Linked DNA regions of Homo sapiens: all the other regions are linked to region 2. A link means that fine-mapping ties the variant in region 2 to the plasma level of a protein whose gene starts in the linked region. Region 2 holds a variant in brackets. A gene starts in each other region. All regions are shown on their forward strands.

Region 1 (5,000 bases), not on the chromosome of region 2:
TCCACGCTCCAGCCTCCAGTCCATCCCTGTAGCTCTTCCCCCACCTCAGCCCAGCTGTGTCCCCATTCCTTCCATCTCCACTGTCTGGGACATTTGTCCCATCTCCTTTTCCAGCCTCCCTTTCACTCCTATGCCAATGATCTTCTCTAACCCACCCCCTCTCAGTCCCTGAAGCACTCTCCATCCACAGCCCTGTTCCCTTCCCTCCTCCACCATCCCATCATACCTCCTGCCCATGTGTTTCCATCCCATCTTCAGCCTCATTCCCATTCCTAACCCCAACTCCATCCTTCCTCCATGTGCCCAGACTCACTCTTTCCATCTTTCCATCCCATCTCCAACCTCATTCCTAACCCTATTCCATTCCCTTCCCCACCAGCAATCCCCATCCCTTCTCCATCCCATGCTTAACGTTCACCCTCATCATCACCTTCTCATCTCTAACTATCCGCATTCTCACCCCCAGTGCCACCTCCACCCACCCTCCATGCTGCTGTGATCTGTCTCCAGCCTCATTCCAGTCCCATGCCTGCCGCGTTCCATGCCTAGCTCCACTCTTACCTCTTCCCAACCCCACTTCCTTATTCCAGCTTCATCTTTATTGTTGGTTTGTTTTGAGATGGAGTCTCGCTCTGTTGCCCAGGCTGGAGTGCAGTGGCGCGATCTCATCTCACTGCAACCTCCACCTCCTGGGTTCAAGTAATTCTCCTGCCTCAGCCTCCCGAGTAGCTGGGATTACAGGCGCACAGCACCATACCCGGCTAATTTGGTATTTTTAGTAGAGGTGGGGTTTCTTCATGTTGGTCAGGCTGGTCTCGAACTCCTGACCTCAGGTGATCCACCCACATCAGCCTCCCACAGTGCTGGGATTACAGTCGTGAGCCACTGCGCTCAGCTAATTTTTGTATTTTTTAGTAGAGATGGGGTTTCGCCATGTTGGCCAGGCTGGTCTTGAACTCTTGACCTCAGGTGATCCGTGCTCCTCAGCCTCCCAACGTGCTGGGATTACAGGCATGAGCCACCACGCCTGGCAGTTTATTTATTTTTCTGAGACAGGGTTTCCCTCTGTTCTCCATCCTGGAGTCCAGGATCATAACTCACTGCAGCCTCCAACTCCTGAGCTCAAGCAATCCTCCCATGTCAGCCTCCTGAGTAGCTGGGACCAAAGGTGTACACCACCATGCCTGGCTAACTCTTAAATTTTTTTTTGTAGAGACAAAGTTTCACTATGTTGCCCAGACTGGTCTTGAACTCCTGGCCTCAAGCAGTCCTTCCACCTGGGCCTCCCAAAGTGCTGGGTTTATAGGTGTAAGTCACCATGCCTGTCTTTCATCTCTATGTCCAATGACATATTCAGCCTTATCCAGGTTCTATCCCCAATGCATCTCCAGCTCAATCTCCAGCCTCATCTTGCACCCTGGCCCCAGCCTATCACAAGCTTCCCGCCCCACTCCACCAGCCCTCACTCACAGAGAGGCGGCGCCAGGCCTGGAAGGTCAGGGAAACATCAGGGAGCTGCTCTCCCAGGGGCAGGAGGTACAGGTTCACTCCTGGCAGGTGAGATTCCGCCTGGGGGGCAAGGTCTGTTAGTGGGGGCCAGAAGGGATTGGGGGTCTGCCCATCTCCAGCGCCAGCTGCATTAGGGGGACTTACAAAGCGGTGGGCCTGGCCCCGAACCTCGGAGAGCAGCTTCCTGGCGAGATGCAGGCTGACTGTGAACTCCCTCCGCAGCTCCTGCAGGCTCAGCTGGGGCCTCCCTGGGGGCCTTGGGAATCCCCAGACACCAGCTTGAACCAGGAGCAAGGGAAGCAGCAACAGGCTGAGCCCTGGAGAGATGGGAAGAGGGTGGCAAGACAGGGAGAGAGCTTGAGAAGGAAGGGAACATGCCTTTTCTGAGCCTGTGCTAGCTGTGAGCACGGTGCAGGCACTTTGACCAGCATCATTCCTCTGCCTCCTCAAAACCACAATGGAGGCTGGGTGCGGTGACTCACACCTGTAATCCCAACAATTTAGGAGACCGAGGCGGGCGGATCACCTGAGGCCAGGAGTTCAAGACCAGCCTGGCCAACATGGCGAAACCCTGTCTCTACTAAAAATACAAAAATTAGTTGGGCGTGGTGGTGCATGCCTGTAATCCCAGCTACTCAGGAGGTTGAGGCAGGAGAATCGCTTGAACCTGGGAGGCAGAGGCTGCAGTGAGCTAACACCACTGTGCTCCAGCCTGGGCGACAGAGCCAGACTCTGTCTCAAAAAAACAAAACAAAACAAAACAAAACAAAACCCCACGATGCAGCCAGCACGGCCCCCATATGGCATCTCCGCATGGTGTGCCCACTTTTGCAAAAAGACCAGAAGCCTGATCCTTTTTTTTTTTTTTTGAAACAGAGTTCTGTTCTATCACCCAGCCTGGAGTGTAGTGGTGTGATCACAGCTCACTGTAGCCTTGAACTCCTAGGCTCAAGTGATCCTCTCGCCTCAGCCTCCCAAGTAGCTGGGATCACAGGGACACACCACTGTGCCTAACTGTTTCTATTTTTTTGTAGAGACAGGGTCTCACTATGTTGCCCAGGCTGGTCTTGAACTCCTGGCCTCAAGAGATCTTCCCGCCTCAGCCTCCCAAATTGCTGGGATCACAGGCATGAGCCACTGTGCCGGGACAGAGACTGGATTTTGACCCCCATAAACTCCCTTGGCCAAATGCCTTTTTCAGTGAGCAACCTGCACAACCACGTGTGGCAGCCTCAGTGCTATTGTTCTCCCCAATTTGCAGGTGAGGCTCAGTGAGGTTGACTTGCCCAAGGTCAAATAGCCAGAAGGTGGGAAGCCAGGACTGGATTCCAGGTTTTTCCAAATGCAGAGCCCATGGGTTTTCCCCAGAGAATGCAGAGGGAGGCAGCCATCTGCCCCAGGAGTGGGCACACCATGTTCTGGCAAGGATTCTTTGGGCTCAGCCAAGCGGCTCTGATGGCTTGAACTGGCCATGAGGTCCCCAGGGATGGGCTGGCAATGCCAGAGGCTCTATTCCAGGGAGTCAAAAGGACAGGTTTGTCCAGTTTCCACCACGGCAGGTGGATCCTAGCAGGGTAACCTGCCTGGGGCGAATCCACAGTATGGGAGCTTTTTTTTTTTTAAGACAGATTCTCACTCTGTCACCCAGGCTGCAGTGCAGTGGCGCGATCTCGACTCACTGCAACCTTCACCTCCCAGGTTAAAGCAATTCTCCTGCCTCAGCCTCCTGAGTAGCCACCACGCCTGGCTAATTTTTATTATATTTAGTAGAGAGGGGTTTTGCCGTGTTGGCCAGGCTGGTCTCCAACTCCTGACCTCAGGTGATCCGCCTGCCTTGGCCTCCCAAAGTGCTGGGATTACAGACATCAGCCACTGCGCCCAGCCCAGAATGGCTGAATTCCGAGTGTGCTTCCTGACCTGTGTTTTCCTGGAAAGAGGGGCAGCGGATGGGCGCTCTAGGAAGAGGGCAGCATTCATCAATTTCCCCCTCAGGGAGAGGAAATCTAGCAAGCACAAGAGTTACACAATTCTCCTCGAAACACAAACCAAAACTGGCCCGAAGTCCATCCTGCTCTCCCTTCTCTCCCTGCCTCTTCCCTGTCCTCTCTCAATCTCTAACCCCTGGGCTCTGCTCTTCGAAATGTCCCCTGATAAAGGTGAAGGGGAGCTTCTAGGGACATCTACCTCCCTCGTGGGCTTGCAGATGTGGTGGGCGATGCCTAACGTAAGATCTCTGGCATTCAGACTCCCTGGTTTTGGGGCCACTCGGACCCTCTGACATCCTGGAGACTTAAGGCAGAGTGGGGTTCTTCCTAGCTCAATGTTGGGGACAGGGTGGGTGCCCCCAGGCCCTGGTGGATCAAGCCCAACCGTAAGTGAGCTGTGCCATCTCCAACCTGACCTCTGGAGACCCCAGACCCCCTCCTTACCCTCTGCAGCTGATCCTGGGTCATTGGCTCTGGCCTTTGAAGGCTCTGTCTCCATCCTCCAGCCTTTGGTCCCTACCTGCCCTACGTGGCATGTTACCTTCTCCACTGCCTACTGCTCTGGTTCTAGCCCCTGAGTTCTGCAGCCACCAGCCGCAGATTGGACCTCTTTCCAACATCAAACTAAAGACCTTTGACCCAGTGAGGCTGCTGACATCTTGGTCCCAGTGCTCCACTTGTGCCAGCACCTCGTTCTGCTCTTCCTCCAGCCGGCCCCATTCTCAGTCTTAGCCAAGCTGTTTGGCTTCTGCTTATTCACTCCAAACTCTTCATTTATCTGCCTAGACCTGGTCCTTGTCAAATTGCTGGTCCAACCCTCCCCATTCCCACTAGCCAAGGCCTCCTTCTCATCCTCTGCCCAGCCCTGGGTCAGACCACCACCCCACTGCCCCAGGCCCCCACCCAGTCATGCCAGCCTCCCTTCCCATGCAGCAGCCAGCCGAATCCTCAGTCTTGGCCAAGTTGCTGCTCTCAGCTCTCGACCCCCCATCTGCACCAGCCAAGCTCGTCCATTCTCTGCCCAAACTCAACCAAGCCCCCCACCCCTGGCTTCAAACTCACGCCAGCCAAGGTCGCCTGCCGTCTGGCCCATGGCGGGGCCCAGCCTCTTTGGTCAGCCATCTCCTGGGTAGGGGGGGTCTTATACTGGGGGCTGTGCCCGGTTTCACTTTCCGTCCTGCTTGTACTTTCAGCTTTGTGTTCACTCATTCTTCCCTCTCGCCACCCCTTGCTAAAATGGGGAAATGTAATTTCCCTTCCCGGAGGGGGTGGGAGGTATGATGGGGGGTGACGGGAAGCTGGGGTTTCGGGACATCCAAGCTCCAGACTCACTGCTAAGCTCCCACGTCCAGCCCTGTCCTCAATGTCCCATGCTTGGGTGAGCCATCCAGCCCTATTCACTGGTTGATCCCAGAGTCCCAAACCCCCTCCTGATTCTCGGCTCTGCCACCATCATCCTAGGGTCTACTGTCCTTCCAAAGATGGATAGCCAGGTAAGGGGATTGC
Region 2 (8,241 bases):
TTAGTGAGACTCTTGAGGGCCGAGGGTGGTTGTCAGCATCTCATGGCAGAGCGTGGCATGGGGCTGTGGATTTGCTAGGAGAAGGGTAAATGCCCTTCGGGGTCCAGAGGTTAATGTAGCAGATGGATGTGTCTTTTCTGTGCCTCTCCTATACCCCTTTAGTCCCCTGTCTCCTTTGGGTTGGTGGCCTTGTGCTTTTGGTGCCTTCTGCTCTGACCACGTGACCATTTCCCAGTCAAACCTGCTCATGACATGTATGCTGCCACACCTACACAGTGGTCTCCGGGGAGCCTTCTGCCTGCTGACCAGTGACCAGAGGATCTTTCGCAAACACAGATCTGACCACGCCCCTCCCACTAAGAAGGCCCCTTGGGCTTCCCCGTGTAGACAGCAGAATCCTGACCTTTAGCACGGGATTCAGACCTCACTCCTCACGCTGCTGTCTCCTCACGCTGAGCTTCCTGCCACATCCACCCCTTGCTTTTGCTATTTCCCATGGAGGATTAACTTCCCTTGTCTCTCGCCGACCAGTGAACTCACCCTCCAACAGCCCCCCTTTATCGTCTCCTTTTCAGATCTATCAAGGAACCATGCTCCATGCTCTTTTCTGTTGTTGGGTCTCAGGGCAGCTTCTCAGGTCAGAGCCTAGCTCTATTTCTTCTCCTTCCTGTCTGCCTCAGGCAACAGGTGGGAAAGGCAGGCGGCATCCCTGTTCCCTCCACAAGTGCCCCTCTATGTCCTTACAGCCAAGGCCATTTAACAAAGCCCTACTGTGTCCACAGGTCTGGGAGGAACTGGTTAGTCTTTCTTGAATGATATCCCCCTGGAAAATGACCCCTCCCTTACTTTCAAAGACTAAGACATCCACATGAAATTGATCAGGAGATTCAACACAGCTCAAATTAAAATCCCAGTAAGATTTTGTGTAGAAATTGGCAAGATAATTCAAAAAATTTTATGGAAAGGCAAAAGACCTAGGCTGCGTGCCGTGGTTCACGCCTGTAATCCCAGCACTTTGGGAGGCTGAGGCAGGTGGATCACCTGAGGTCGGGAGTTCGAGACCAGCCTGGCCAACATGGTGAAACCTTGTCTCTACTAAAAGTACAAAAATTAGCCAGGCGTGGTGGCACGTGCTTGTAATCCCAGCTACTCAAGAGGCTGAGGCAGGAGAATTGCTTGAACCCGGGAGGTGGAGGTTGCAGTGAGCCGCGATTGCACTACTGCACTCCAGACTGGGTGACAGAGTGAGAAAAACAAACAAACAAACAAACAAACAAACAAAAAACAGAACTAGACCAGCCAAGCAATTTTGAAAAAGAACAGAGCTGGAAGACTTCCAGTACCTCATTTTCAGAATCGCTGTAAAGCTGCAGTAATCAAGAGCAGACTATAGGACATGTAGGCAAAAGGACAGACTTGTAGTCCAATGGGACATAGGAAGAAGTCAGGAGCAGACCCCACATGAATGATCAATGGATTTTCAACAAAGGCGCCAAAATGATTCAGTGGAGAAAGGATAATCTTTTAAATAAATGGAGCAATTGGACATCCATATAAAAATTCAAAAACCAAGAAAAACCCATACCACATACCTTGTAGCATGTACAAGCAACAAAGATGGATCATGAACCTAAATGTAAAGCCTAAAACCGTAAACCTTCTGGAAGAAAACATAGAAGAAAATCTTTGTGGTCTTGGCTTAGAGAAAACTTTCTTCAGACACAGAAAGTATGAACTGTCAAGGAAAAAGTTGGCAAAAATGGATTTTATCAAAATTAAAAACAGCTGCTCTTTGAAAAACACTGCAAAGAAATAAAAAGACAAGCCACACATGGGGACAAAATATTTGTAAAACACATATCTGATAAAGAAGTTGTATCCAGAGTATGTAGAACTCTTACAGCCCCTTCACAAGAAAATGAAACAACTCAATGTAATAAATGGGCAAAAAATACTCGAACTGATTATTCACCAAACAAGATGCATAGATGGCAAATAAGACCATGAAGGGATGCTCACCCTCATTAGTCATTAAGGAAATGCAAATTAAGGTAGAATGAGATACCATTACATATATGTTAGGATGGCTTAAAACTTCAATACCATCAAATTGACCCTCATCAAAACTTCCCAACACAAACACAAACAAAAAAACCACGCTGATAATATGAAGTGATGATGAGGATGTGGAGAAACTGCAACTCTGATACATTGCTGGTGGAAGGCGAAATGGTACGGCCACTTTGGAAAAACACTTTGGAAGTTTCTTATGATGTTAAACATACCTTTACCATAGACCCAGAGATTACACTCCCGGATACTTAAAGGAGAGAAATGAAAACGTTAGTGCACACCAAGACGTGTATGCATGGCTTCTCCATTCATAATAGCCTCAAACTGAAGACAATTCCAAATGTCCTTCCATTGGGAAGTGGGTAAACAGACTGTGTCACTTCCATACAGTGAGATACTACTCAGCAATAAAAAGACATTCTGCTGAGTGGAAAAAGCCAGACTCAAAAGTGCCCTTACTGTGTGATTCTTTTTGCATGACATTCTGGAAAAGAGCAAACTATAGGGAAGAAAGCAGACCCGTACTCACCAGGTGGGTGGAGGAGTTGACTAGAAAGCAAAGTGAGGGATTTTTGGGGGTTGACGGACAGATTCTAAATCTTGATTGTGGTGGTGACACGACTGTATATATTTTCCAAAATTCATAGTACTGTGACACCTAAATCAGGTGAATTTTATTGTAATTAAATTATGCTCAGTGAACTTGAATTAAAGAGAGTTAAGATAGGGGAGTCTCTGGATCACTTTTTTGAGGTGAGAACACTGTGTCTGAGGCCGTGTTGACACTTTTTCCAAGTGCTTCTGGGTATGGTTTGAGGGGGTTCTTTATGTGGAATTACTTGTTTTACGTGCCCAGGGTGAGGCCTTTGAGTTCACATTGAGCCACATTGTCATTTTCAATGAAGGCAGGTTGCAAGCTGTGTGACTGCACTCAGTTTAGCCCATTCCTCTTTCTAAGGCGTTCCACGACAACACAGGTGCAGTCAGGTCTTCCATCAGCTCTGGACGCCCTAGACTGTGTGGTGCTTCAGTGAGGCCCTCGTGGTGGGGTGGTGCAGCCCGAGGCACCACCTTGTTTTTCACTGCAAGGTGGCTGCAGAGCAGAACCAGTGCTCTGGTCTGTGGTCCTGAGAGCCCTCAGGGCGCTGGGATGACATCCCTCCGTGAAATACAGGTGCCTGAGGCCATGTTCCTGAAGGCATTGCTCATCTCAACCACCTGGAAAACTCTCTGGTCCGCGGGCCTCTCCCAGAGATCCGGGAAATGGGGGGCAGCTGTTTCCAGACCTCACCAGTGAGAAAGGCGCTCCATGTTCTGTCCTGGCCGCAGAGGTGAACATAGCCGGGGTCACTCCAGCTCCCACTGGGTTGAATGTCGCTGAGTGCAGGGCAGAGAGCAGGACGGAGAGAGAATGAGCTTGGAGGAAGCCCCCAGCATATTTCCTGGATTACTGAGAGGAGCTGCCCTTCTGCCAGGGCCAGGGGAGGCCAGCTCTGTCAGTGGGAGACCCCTATGGACGACTGTCCAGGCTGGTGTTTGTGGCAGGTCTGCTGGGTGTGGGGAGGCACAGGGTTAACTACTGCAGGGCTAGAGCCCATTGCTGACTTCTGTATATTCCCTTGACTGGCACCGTGTCGCCCTGGCCTGGTGGATCGCTTGACAGTAAGCCTGAGGCTGGTGCCTACCCATTTCATGGCGTGGTGGAGGGGGGCTACCAAGGTCTTGCTCGTATTTCTGTTGAGAGGGACACCGGGGAGCTCTCTGGTCAGGCTGCGCGTGGGGGCCCTGGCTCCCTGGCTCATATTCTGTGGCCTGACCTGCAAGCCCAGCTTCAGGCTCTCGACTTCCTCCTGAAGGGCGTTTCTCAAGTTTGAATGAACGGCTTAAATTGGCAAGACGTAATCCAGGGCTCTGTTAAACTAGCCACAGAGAGTTCTAAATCTGCCTCCCTCAGTCACCAAGATGCTGCATTTATAGGCAATTTTTGCTGTATGAATCACATTTTGGCCTCTTATGTGGCTCAAACTACTTACAAATCAAGAACATTCTATAGCCTCTACATCACATGGGGGACTGGGCCTGTAGGGGTGCTGGGACATCCCCTGGAGGGGCAGCACAAACCCTGTTCGCTGTGGCCAATGCAGAAGGAGTTGTGATGAGGCAGCTTTTTTTTCTTTTTCCTGAGGTGGTTTGTCACTCAGATTCTGCTTCCTGTTGAGGTTGGTAGAGCCTCAAGTGCCATGCAGAGAAGTCCACCTATAAACTGCCATTCCCTGGTCTTTCATGAGGCAGACTTGACTGCTCGTCCAAGTGCTCTATTCTGTTGTATAAGGCAATCTCCACCCTCATTAGAGCCCATGGTGGGTGAAGATGGTATGTGGGTGCTTGGAGCGGAAGGAGAGTCACATTTATACACTCACATGTCAGCAGCCGTGGGTCCATACAATGTTCCTCCTCCAGAGAACAAGCTTCTTTGTCTGCATCCCCTCCACTGCCAGCATGTGCTGGGTCCAGAGTGCCGGGCCTCGGGCGGGGTGGTCCATCTTGGTGGCTGTTTACTTAATCTCCTCCTCCTATACCTGTGGTTCTAAACTATGGTGATTTTGCCTCCAGAGACATTCAGTGACATTTTTGGTTGTCCAAACTTGGGGAGGTTACTACTGACTG[G/T]CAGCTACGGTGGAGAGGCCAGGGATGCTGTTAACCATCCCAAAATGCTTGGTTCGGCTGCTCACAACAAAGAATTATCTGGCCCAAAATGGGAAAAGTGCCTGGGTAGAGAAACTGCCCTCGACTGAGAGCTCCTGACGGTAAGCACAGTGTTGATTCCTCTTTCCATCTTCAGAGCCTGGCAGGTATCATGTGCTCAGTTGGCATAGGCTGAATCAAATCTGTGATTAAAAGGCTCACATGCATGTTGGTTTTTGTGTTGATAAAATACTTTCAATATTCCGTGATAATTTTTGTTCTATTTGTTTGTTTGTTTGTCTAAGCATAGAAATTAAATCAGCTTTCAATTAGTCATACTAATGGGTGGGAGAGAAGAGTAGTCCCTCCAAAACGGAAGATCCCCCAGAATCCACTTTTACGGTTGTCTGTGCAATGATACAGAGACACAAATGCACAGTAGGACTCACTGTTGCCCTCTAGAGCCAGCCCGAGGCCCTTTCTTGTTTGGTTTACAGGCATGGGGGAAGGCCCTGCCTTGTTGATAATCTACAAAGTGCAACAGATAATTGGAAAGGAACTAATTATTTTACCTTGACTGTACTATTCCCCATCTTCCTCTCTCCTCTCCTTTTTTTTAATCTTAAAAGGAAAACGAAGTGAAATCTAGGACACTTGTTTTTTTTTTTTTTTTAATTTCAATTGAATATAGATTAATTTGTTCATTCAACAGATACTTACTGAGCTTCTTCCATGGACTAAATGAGGGTAAAAGCACACCATGTCTGCCTTTGGTGACCCTGGTGGGAGTACTATCACAACCTAAGGGTGATAAAGGAAGCACTCGATGCTCCAAGGCATGTGTGTGCATGTCTGTGTGCGTGTGCATGTGTGTGTGTGTCTGTTTGCATGTGTGGGGAGGGTGTGCCCTGCCCTTCAGGCTGTGCAGCATGGGCTGGCAGCAACTTCTGAGGGGAAGAAGAGAGGGGGAAGAAGAGATTTGCAGGCACACAGTGGGTAGAGGATATGATTAGCATTGTTGGTACAATTTCCAGGCATCTTCTGCCTGTACCTCTTTGTGATCGTCCAGGCAGAACCTACCACATCTCCATGAAGGAGGCAGGATGTGGAGGTTCCACACCAGGTGGACTTGGGGATTCAAACTCAGGCCTCTGACTCCCAGCAGAAGACTTTTCCCCAAAGTGTGTCACCAACACCACCCAGGGTGCTGGGATGGTTCCCTAGGGCTCAGAGCCTTGATTCAGCCCCAGCCCCCAAGGAGGGTGTTTGTTTGCTCTCCACCAGCAGGGGGATAAAGTGCTGTTTGGAGAGTGTCAGGGCTGGAAGGGCAGGCCATGCTCATGGAAAATTTCCCTATTTAAGTAATGACTGAGTAGGTTTATGGAAGAGCATTAAGGAGACTTCAGGTGCAGGGATGATGTGGCAGAGGCCATTGAGGGCCACCACCTGGCAGAGATCTGGAAAGCTCTTGCTTAACCCAAGGGAGAGGTGGCCCTTCTCAAGCAGAGGGACCAGTTTCTATTTTCTCCCTTGAAAACAAGAAGGAGACAGTGGCCCCTGTCCTCTGGCATGGGGTCAAGGATGCAGAGATTACTGCTCTGCTCAGCCTAGCACCCCACCTCCACCTTCCCTGGAATCTGTCCCACCTGATGGCCAGCAGATGGCCCTGGGGAGGAAGCTACCAACTCTTGCTTTAAGAAACTGTCCCAGTTGAGAGAATTGACCTACCCCATGGGACTTGTCTTGTTTGAAAGGAAACCTTTGAGAGTCTTCTTTTAAATCACATGTCTTCTGTGATGAGTGTAGGTAGGAAAAAAGGAAACATTAGGTGTTGGAGGCAAAACTGCTCATATGGAGGAAAATCGTTTCATCTTTTATACTTCTTACATCTTTTTTGTATACCTGAAAGCAAGTGTAGAAGAAAAAAACTGATTCTGCCAGTTGGCAACAGTTATTCCTGACCTTAAAACTAGTCTTGATGTGGAGGAGACATCAGTGTGCAATGCTATAGATGACATATTGCTTAAACGCTTCCTCATTTAACTGTCATAGCCCCTAAAATGGGTGTTACTAATTTTGTTTTAGAGATAAGGGCACTAATGCTCAGAGAGGTTGAGGAGTTTGTCCGAGGCCACATAGCCATTCAATAAAGACTGTGTTCTTTCTAGTGTATTAGGAATCTCTGCTGACCTGGGCAGAGCTGTGAATATGAGATACGATTTGAGAAAATGCACCAAACAAATCAAAAAGCAACTTTACAGGAGAAGATACAAGGATGTACCTGATTGCTTGTCAAAGAAATAAAAATATATGATATGTACTGTGAAATGCAGTAATTTCCCTTTACCCAATGCTTCACTTTCTGTGGTTTCAGTTACCTGTGGTCAATTTTGTTCTGAAAATATTAAATGGAAAATTTCAGAAACAATTTATTAGTTTTAAATTGTGTGCCATCCTGAGTAATGTTGTGTCCGGAGTTGGTTTCTGCTGGTGGGTTTGTGGTCTCTCTGACTTCAAGAATGAAGCCGCGGACCTTCGCAGTGAGTGTTACAGCTCTTAAAGATGGCTTGGACCCAAAGAGTGAGCAGTAGCAAGGTTTATTGTGAAGAGCAAAAGGACAAAGTTTCCACAGGGTGGAAGGGGACCCCAGCGGGTTGCCGCTGCTGGCTGGGGTGGCCAGCTTTTATTCCCTTATTTGACCTCTCTGATGTTCTGTTTCTGTCCTATCAGAATGCCCTTTTTTCAATCCTCCCTGTGATTGGCTACTTTTAGGATTCTGCTGATTGGTGCATTTTACAGAGCGTTGATTGGCGCATTTTACAAAGCACTGATTGGTGCATTTTACAATCCTCTTGCTAGCTACAGAGCGCTGATTGGTGCATTTTACAATCCGAGCTACAGAATGCTAATTGGTGCATTTTACAATCCTCTCCTAAGACAGAAAAGTTCTCCAAGTCCCCACTCGACCCAGGAAATCCAGCTGGCTTCACCTCTCAATATGATGAAATCTGAAGCCATCCTGCTCCATCCCATCCTGAATGGAATCCTCCCCTTGTCCAGGTTACCCACCCGTTAGTCACTTAGTAGCTGTCTCAGTGATCAGATGGCTTGTCATGGTGTCACAGTGCTTGTGTTTAAGTCATCTTTATTTGACTTCATATGTCCCCAAAACACAAGAGTCGTGATGCTGGCAATTGGGATATGCCAAAGAGAAGCCATAAAGTGTTTCCTTTAGGTAAAAAAGTGAAAGTTCTCGACTTCATAAGAAAAGAAAAGCAATCATATGCTGCGGTTGCTAAGATCTACAGAAAGAAGGAGTCTTCTACCTGTGAAATTGTGAAGAAGGAAAAAGAAATTTGTGCTAGTTTTGCTGTCACACCTCAAATTGTAAAAGGTACAGCCACAGGGGTGATAAGCACTTAATTAAGATGGAAATTAAATTTGTGGGTGGAAGACATGGACAGGAATATGTCTGGTTGGCAG
Region 3 (5,179 bases), not on the chromosome of region 2:
ACCATTCTCCTGCCTCAGCCTCCTGAGTAGCTGGGACTACAGGCGCCTGCCACCACGCCCGGCTAATTTTTTTGCATTTTTAGTGGAGACGGGGTTTCACCATGTCAGCCAGGATGGTCTTGATCTCCTGACCTTGTGATCCGCCCGCCTCGGCCTCCCAGAGTGCTGGGATTACAGGTGTGAGCCCCCACGCTCAGCCTTTTTTTTTTTTTTTTTTTTTGACACAGAGTCTCACTCTATCTCCCAGGCTGGAGTGCAGTGGCGTGACCTCGGCTCACTGCAACCTCCTCTCACTGCAACCTCCGCCTCCCAGGTTTAAGCGATTCTCCCACCTCAGCGTCCCAAGTAGCTGGGATTACAGGTGCGCACCACAACGCCCAGCTAATTCTTGTATTTTTAGTAGAGACGGGGTTTCACCATATTGGCCAGGCTGGTCTCGAACTTCTGACCTTGTGACCCGCCCGCCTCAGCCTCCCAAAGTGCTGGGATTAGAGGCGTGAGCCACCACACCCGGCCCTCTGTCGTCTTCTCTTATCTCTCTGTCTCTCTTTCTGTGTCTGTCATCTCCCCGTATCTCTATTTCTGTCTTCCTGTCTTCTTTCTGTCTCTCTTTTGTCTCTCTTTCTCCATCTCTGTCATTGCCCCATCAGTCTTTTTGTTGTTGTTGTTGTTCTTTTTGAGATGGAGTCTCACTCTGTCACCCAGGCTGGAGTGCAGTGGTGTAATCTTGGTTCACTGCAACCTCTGCCTCCCAGGTTTAAGTGATTCTCCTTCCTCAGCCTCCAGAGTAGCTGGGATTACAGGTGCCTGCCACCACGCCCAGCTAATTTTTGTATTTTTAGTAGAGACAGGGTTTCACCATTTTGGTCAGGCTGGTCTCGAACTCCCAACCTCAGGTGATCCATCTGCCTTGGCCTCCCAAGGTGCTGGGATTACAGCCGTGAGCCACCGTGCCCCACCATCTCTCTATCTCTGTCTATCCTACTCTCTCATCTCTGTCTCTCTGTCTCTGTCTCTCATCTTCCCATCTGTGTCTCTCTTTCTCTGTCTTCCTCCCTTATCTCTGTCTCTGTGTCTCTCTCATTTCCCTATCTCTGTCTTCCTCTCTTATCTCTGTCCCTCTGTCTCTCTTCCTCTGTCTGTCTGCTCTCTGTGTTTCTCTTTCTGTTTCCATCATCTCCCTGTCTCTCTCTGTCTCTGTGTCCTCCTCCTCTCATCTCTGTCTCTGTCTCTCTCATTCCCCTGTCTCTCTCTGTCTCTATCATCTCCCTATCTATCTCTGTGTCCTCCTCCTCTCATCTCTGTCTCTCTCTGTGTTTCTGTCTCTGTCATCCCCCTTTCTCTGTCTCTGTCATCTCCCTGTCTCTCTATCTCTGTGTCCTCCTCCTCTCGTCTCTGTCTCTCTGCCTCTCTCATCTGTATCTCTCTCTGTCTCTGTCATCTCCCTGTCTCTGTCTCTCTCTATCTCTGTGTCCTCCTCTCATTTGTCTCTCTGCCTCTCTCATCTGTATCTCTGTCACTTTCTCTGTCATCTCCCTGTCTCTCTATCCCTCTATCTCTGTGTCCTCCTCTCATCTGTCTCTCTGCCTCTCTCATCTGTAGCTCTCTCTGTCTCTGTCATCTCCCTGTCTCTCTATCCCTCTATCTCTGTGTCCTCCTCTCATCTGTCTCTCTGACTCTCTCATCTTTGTCTCTGTCTCTGTCTCTGTCATCTCCCTGTCTATCTCCGTGTCCTCCTCCTCTCATCTCTGCCTTTCTCATCTCTGTGTCTCTCTCTGTGTTTCTGTCTCTGTCATGCCCCTTTCTCTGTCTGTCATCTCCCTGTCTCTATCTATCTCTGTGTCCTCCTCCTCTCATCTCTGTCTCTCTCATCTGTATCTCTCTCTGTCTCTGTCGTCTCCCTGTCTCTCTATCTCTTTGTCCTCTTCCTCTTGTCTTTCTCTCTGCCTCTCTCATCTGTGTCTCTCTCTGTCTCTGTCTCTGTCATCTCCCTGTCTCTGTCTCTCTCTCTCTGTGTCCTCCTCCTCTCGTCTCTTTCTCTCTGCCTCTTTCATCTGTGTCTCTGTGTCTCTCTGTCATCTCCCTGTCTATCTCTGTGTCCTCCTCCTCTCGTCTCTGTCTCTCTGCCTCTTTCATCTGTGTCTCTCTGTCTCTGTCTCTGTCATCTCCCTGTCTCTGTATCCCTCTATCTCTGTGTCCTCCTCTTCTTGTCTCTGTCTCTCTGCCTCTCTCATCTGTGTCTCTCTCTGTGTCTCTGTCTCTGTCATCTCCCTGTCTCTCTGTGTCTTCCTTCTGTCTTCTCTGTCTCTCTGCCTCTCTCCCCCATCTCTGCCTCTGTCTCCCTCCATGTCCCTGAGCCCCTGCCTGCCTGCCTGGGGTTTCCCCCGCTTCAGGGCAGCGGAAGGAAGGCCAGCAGGACATGCTGTGCTGGGAAAAGCCAGCAGGTCTCCACTTCTCCCTTTCACAGCCTCCTCCCCCGCCCCCACCCTCGGGGCCTTCCGAGCAGGGGTGGCCTGTGCTCCCCAGGGGGCTGGGGCTCCTCCACACCCTAATTCATCTCCCTAGCGGCCCCACGAGCCCCACCAGTGAGTCAGACCTGAAGGAAGTCGGGGAGGGGGCGGGCCTTGACCCTGGGCTGGGCTTTCCCCTGGGCAGGTCCCAAGTCCTCACCTCCCCTCTCAAGTCTCCCACGACGTTCCCACCCACTCCTGAGAGCAGAGCTGGCCGCAGCCATGACCCCGCAGCTTCTCCTGGCCCTTGTCCTCTGGGCCAGCTGCCCGCCCTGCAGTGGAAGGAAAGGTATGTGGGGCCCCTGGGGGACTGGGGGGCCCAGGCAGACGGACATGACACGAGGACTGGCCTCGGATCATGTCTGGGGTGGGAAATCACATCCTCCCGTGCCCAATGGTGGGATGGGGTTACCCTCCCATTGTACAGATGGAGGAACTGAGGCACAGAGAGGCAGAGTGCCACATTGGGGGTGGAAGGATGTCACCTTGTGGGTGATAGGGACTGGCAGTCACAGCTCAGAGGTATCCATAGAGCTACACAGACATAGCTACACAGACATGCGAATTTGAGTCACACTCATTCCTTTGGTTTCTTTTTGGTTTTGTTTTTTGAGACAGAGTCTCACTCTGTCGCCCAGGCTGGAGTACAGTGGCACCATCTCAGCTCACTGAAACCTCCATCTCCTGGGTTCAAGCGAGATTCTCCTCCCTCAGCCTCCCGAGTAGTTGGGATTACAGGTGCCCGCCACCATGCCCGGCTACTTTTTATATTTTTAGTAGAGATAGGGTTTTACCATGTTGGCCAGGGTGGTCTTGAACTCCTGACCTCAGGTGATCCACCCACCTCGGGCTCCCAAAGTGCTGGGATGACAGATGTGAGCCACCGCGCCCGGCCGACATTCATTCATTTTGCACTAGAGAACATCTCCATGTCCTTGAAGACAAAATGGTTACAGCAGGGCATGGTGGCTCATGCCTGTAATTCCAGCACTTTGGGAGGCCAGGGCGTGAGGATCGTGAGGCCAGGAATTCGAGACCAGCCTGGGCAACATAGTGAAACCGGACCCCACCAATCTGTACAAAAAATTAAAAAATTAGCTAGATGTGGTGGCACGTGCCTGTAGTCCCAGCTACTTGGGAGGCTGAGGTGGGAGGATAATTTGAGCCCAGGAATTGGAGGCTGCAGTGAGCTATGATTGTGCCACTGCATTCCAGCCTAGGTGACAGAGTGGGATACCTTGTCTCAAAATAATAATAATAATAATAATTTATAGGCTGGGTTTGGTGGCTCACGCCTGTAATTCCAGCACTTTGGGAGGCCAAGGCAGGTGGATCACCTGAGGTCAGGAGTTTGAGACCAGCCTGGCCAACATGGTGAAACTCCCTCTCTACTAAAAATACAAAAATTAGCCAAGCGTGGCAGTACATGCCTGTAATCCCAGCTACTCGGGAGGCTAAGAATCGCTTGAACCCGGGAGGCGGGGGTGGCAGTGAGCCGAGATCTCGCCACTGCACTCCAGCCTAGGCGACAGAGGGAGACTCCCTCTTTAAAAAAAAAAAACAATTACAAAAGAGAGAACACGGTAAAATCTCTCTCTCTTACCCGAGTTCCTCTCTGTAGATGCTTAAACCTCAGCTTCCCTATCTGGAAAATGGGCTAGTAGTCCTCACCTAGATGGATTGCAGTGGGGATAAAAGATGACAGATGACTTTTGTCCATGTACCTATTTATTCCGAAAGCCTTTATTAGGCACCTACCATGTACCTGGTGCTGGCTGGCAACGTGGCAGGAGCCCAGCGCACGGGAGGGCTATGACAATCTGGGGGTAAACCAGAAGCTCACTCTTTCTGTCTTCCTCCAGGGCCCCCAGCAGCTCTGACACTGCCCCGGGTGCAATGCCGAGCCTCTCGGTACCCGATCGCCGTGGATTGCTCCTGGACCCTGCCGCCTGCTCCAAACTCCACCAGCCCCGTGTCCTTCATTGCCACGTACAGGTCGGAGAGCCTGGAAGGGGGCCTCAGGGACACTGGACTTCCTGGAGAGCCCAGAACTCTGGCCCTGAGAGCCCTGGGGTCAGGAAAACTGGAGACCCCGACATCCTGAACCCCAGGCCTATGGAATTCTAGGGCGGCCCCGTCCAATAGAAATATACTTTCTGGGCCAGGCACAGTGGTGCATGCCTGTAATCCCAGCGCTTTGGGAGGCCGAGGTGGGCAGATTGCTTGAGGTCAGGAGTTTGAGACCAGCTTGGGCAACGTAGTGAGACACTGTCTCTACGAAAAATTTTAAAAATTGGTCAGGTGCAGTGGCTCATGCCTGTAATCCCAGCTACTCCGGAGGCTGAGGCAGGAGAATAGCTTGAACCCAGGAGGCGGAGGTTGCAGTGAGCCAAGATGGCACCATTGCACTCCAGCCTGGGCAACAGAGCAAGACTCCATCTCAAAAAAAAAAAAAAAAAACTACTTCCTGGGTTGGGCACAGTGGCACATGCCTGTAATCCCAGTACTTTGGGAGGCTGATGTGGGAGGATCACTTGAGGTCAGGAGTTTGAGTCCAGCTTGGGCAAAATAGTGAGACCCTGTCTCTAAAAACAATTTTTAAAATTAGCTGGGCATGGCCAGGCGCGGTGGCTCACGCCTGTAATCCCAGCACTTTGGGAGGCCGAGGT

Alleles and levels. Positions count from the first base shown, and alleles are read on the strand shown. Strength reflects both the effect of a copy and how common the allele is.
For the plasma level of the protein whose gene starts at base 4,610 in region 1, allele G in region 2 goes with a higher level than allele T (weak association).
As copies of G replace T in region 2, the plasma level of the protein whose gene starts at base 2,705 in region 3 goes up (weak association).

The links. PIP is the posterior inclusion probability: the model's chance that the variant is causal. The UK Biobank Pharma Proteomics Project read protein levels with antibody pairs (Olink). The fine-mapping took linkage between variants from a reference panel, not from the people measured, so its PIPs are less certain.
Region 1: IL27 starts here. The variant in region 2 is fine-mapped to the plasma level of the IL27 protein (UK Biobank, PIP 0.99).
Region 3: it holds the start of EBI3, and the variant in region 2 is fine-mapped to the plasma level of the EBI3 protein (UK Biobank, PIP 0.99).

Annotation. Positions count from the first base shown.
Region 1 is chr16:28,502,225-28,507,224 of GRCh38, forward strand. IL27 (interleukin 27) reads right to left here and starts at 4,610. Exons shown (of 5, transcript NM_145659.3): 1 at 4,557-4,610; 2 at 1,654-1,826; 3 at 1,471-1,569. The coding sequence starts at 4,587.
Region 2 is chr2:110,848,499-110,856,739 of GRCh38, forward strand. All of the region lies in intron 10 of ACOXL (acyl-CoA oxidase like), which reads left to right. Among named protein-coding and RNA genes, the nearest start is that of ACOXL, 120 kb to the left of the region's middle. The variant G/T (reference allele first, on the strand shown) is at 4,741.
Region 3 is chr19:4,226,819-4,231,997 of GRCh38, forward strand. EBI3 (Epstein-Barr virus induced 3) reads left to right here and starts at 2,705. Exons shown (of 5, transcript NM_005755.3): 1 at 2,705-2,799; 2 at 4,373-4,505. The coding sequence starts at 2,733. RefSeq lists enhancers at 2,925-3,014, 3,978-4,479.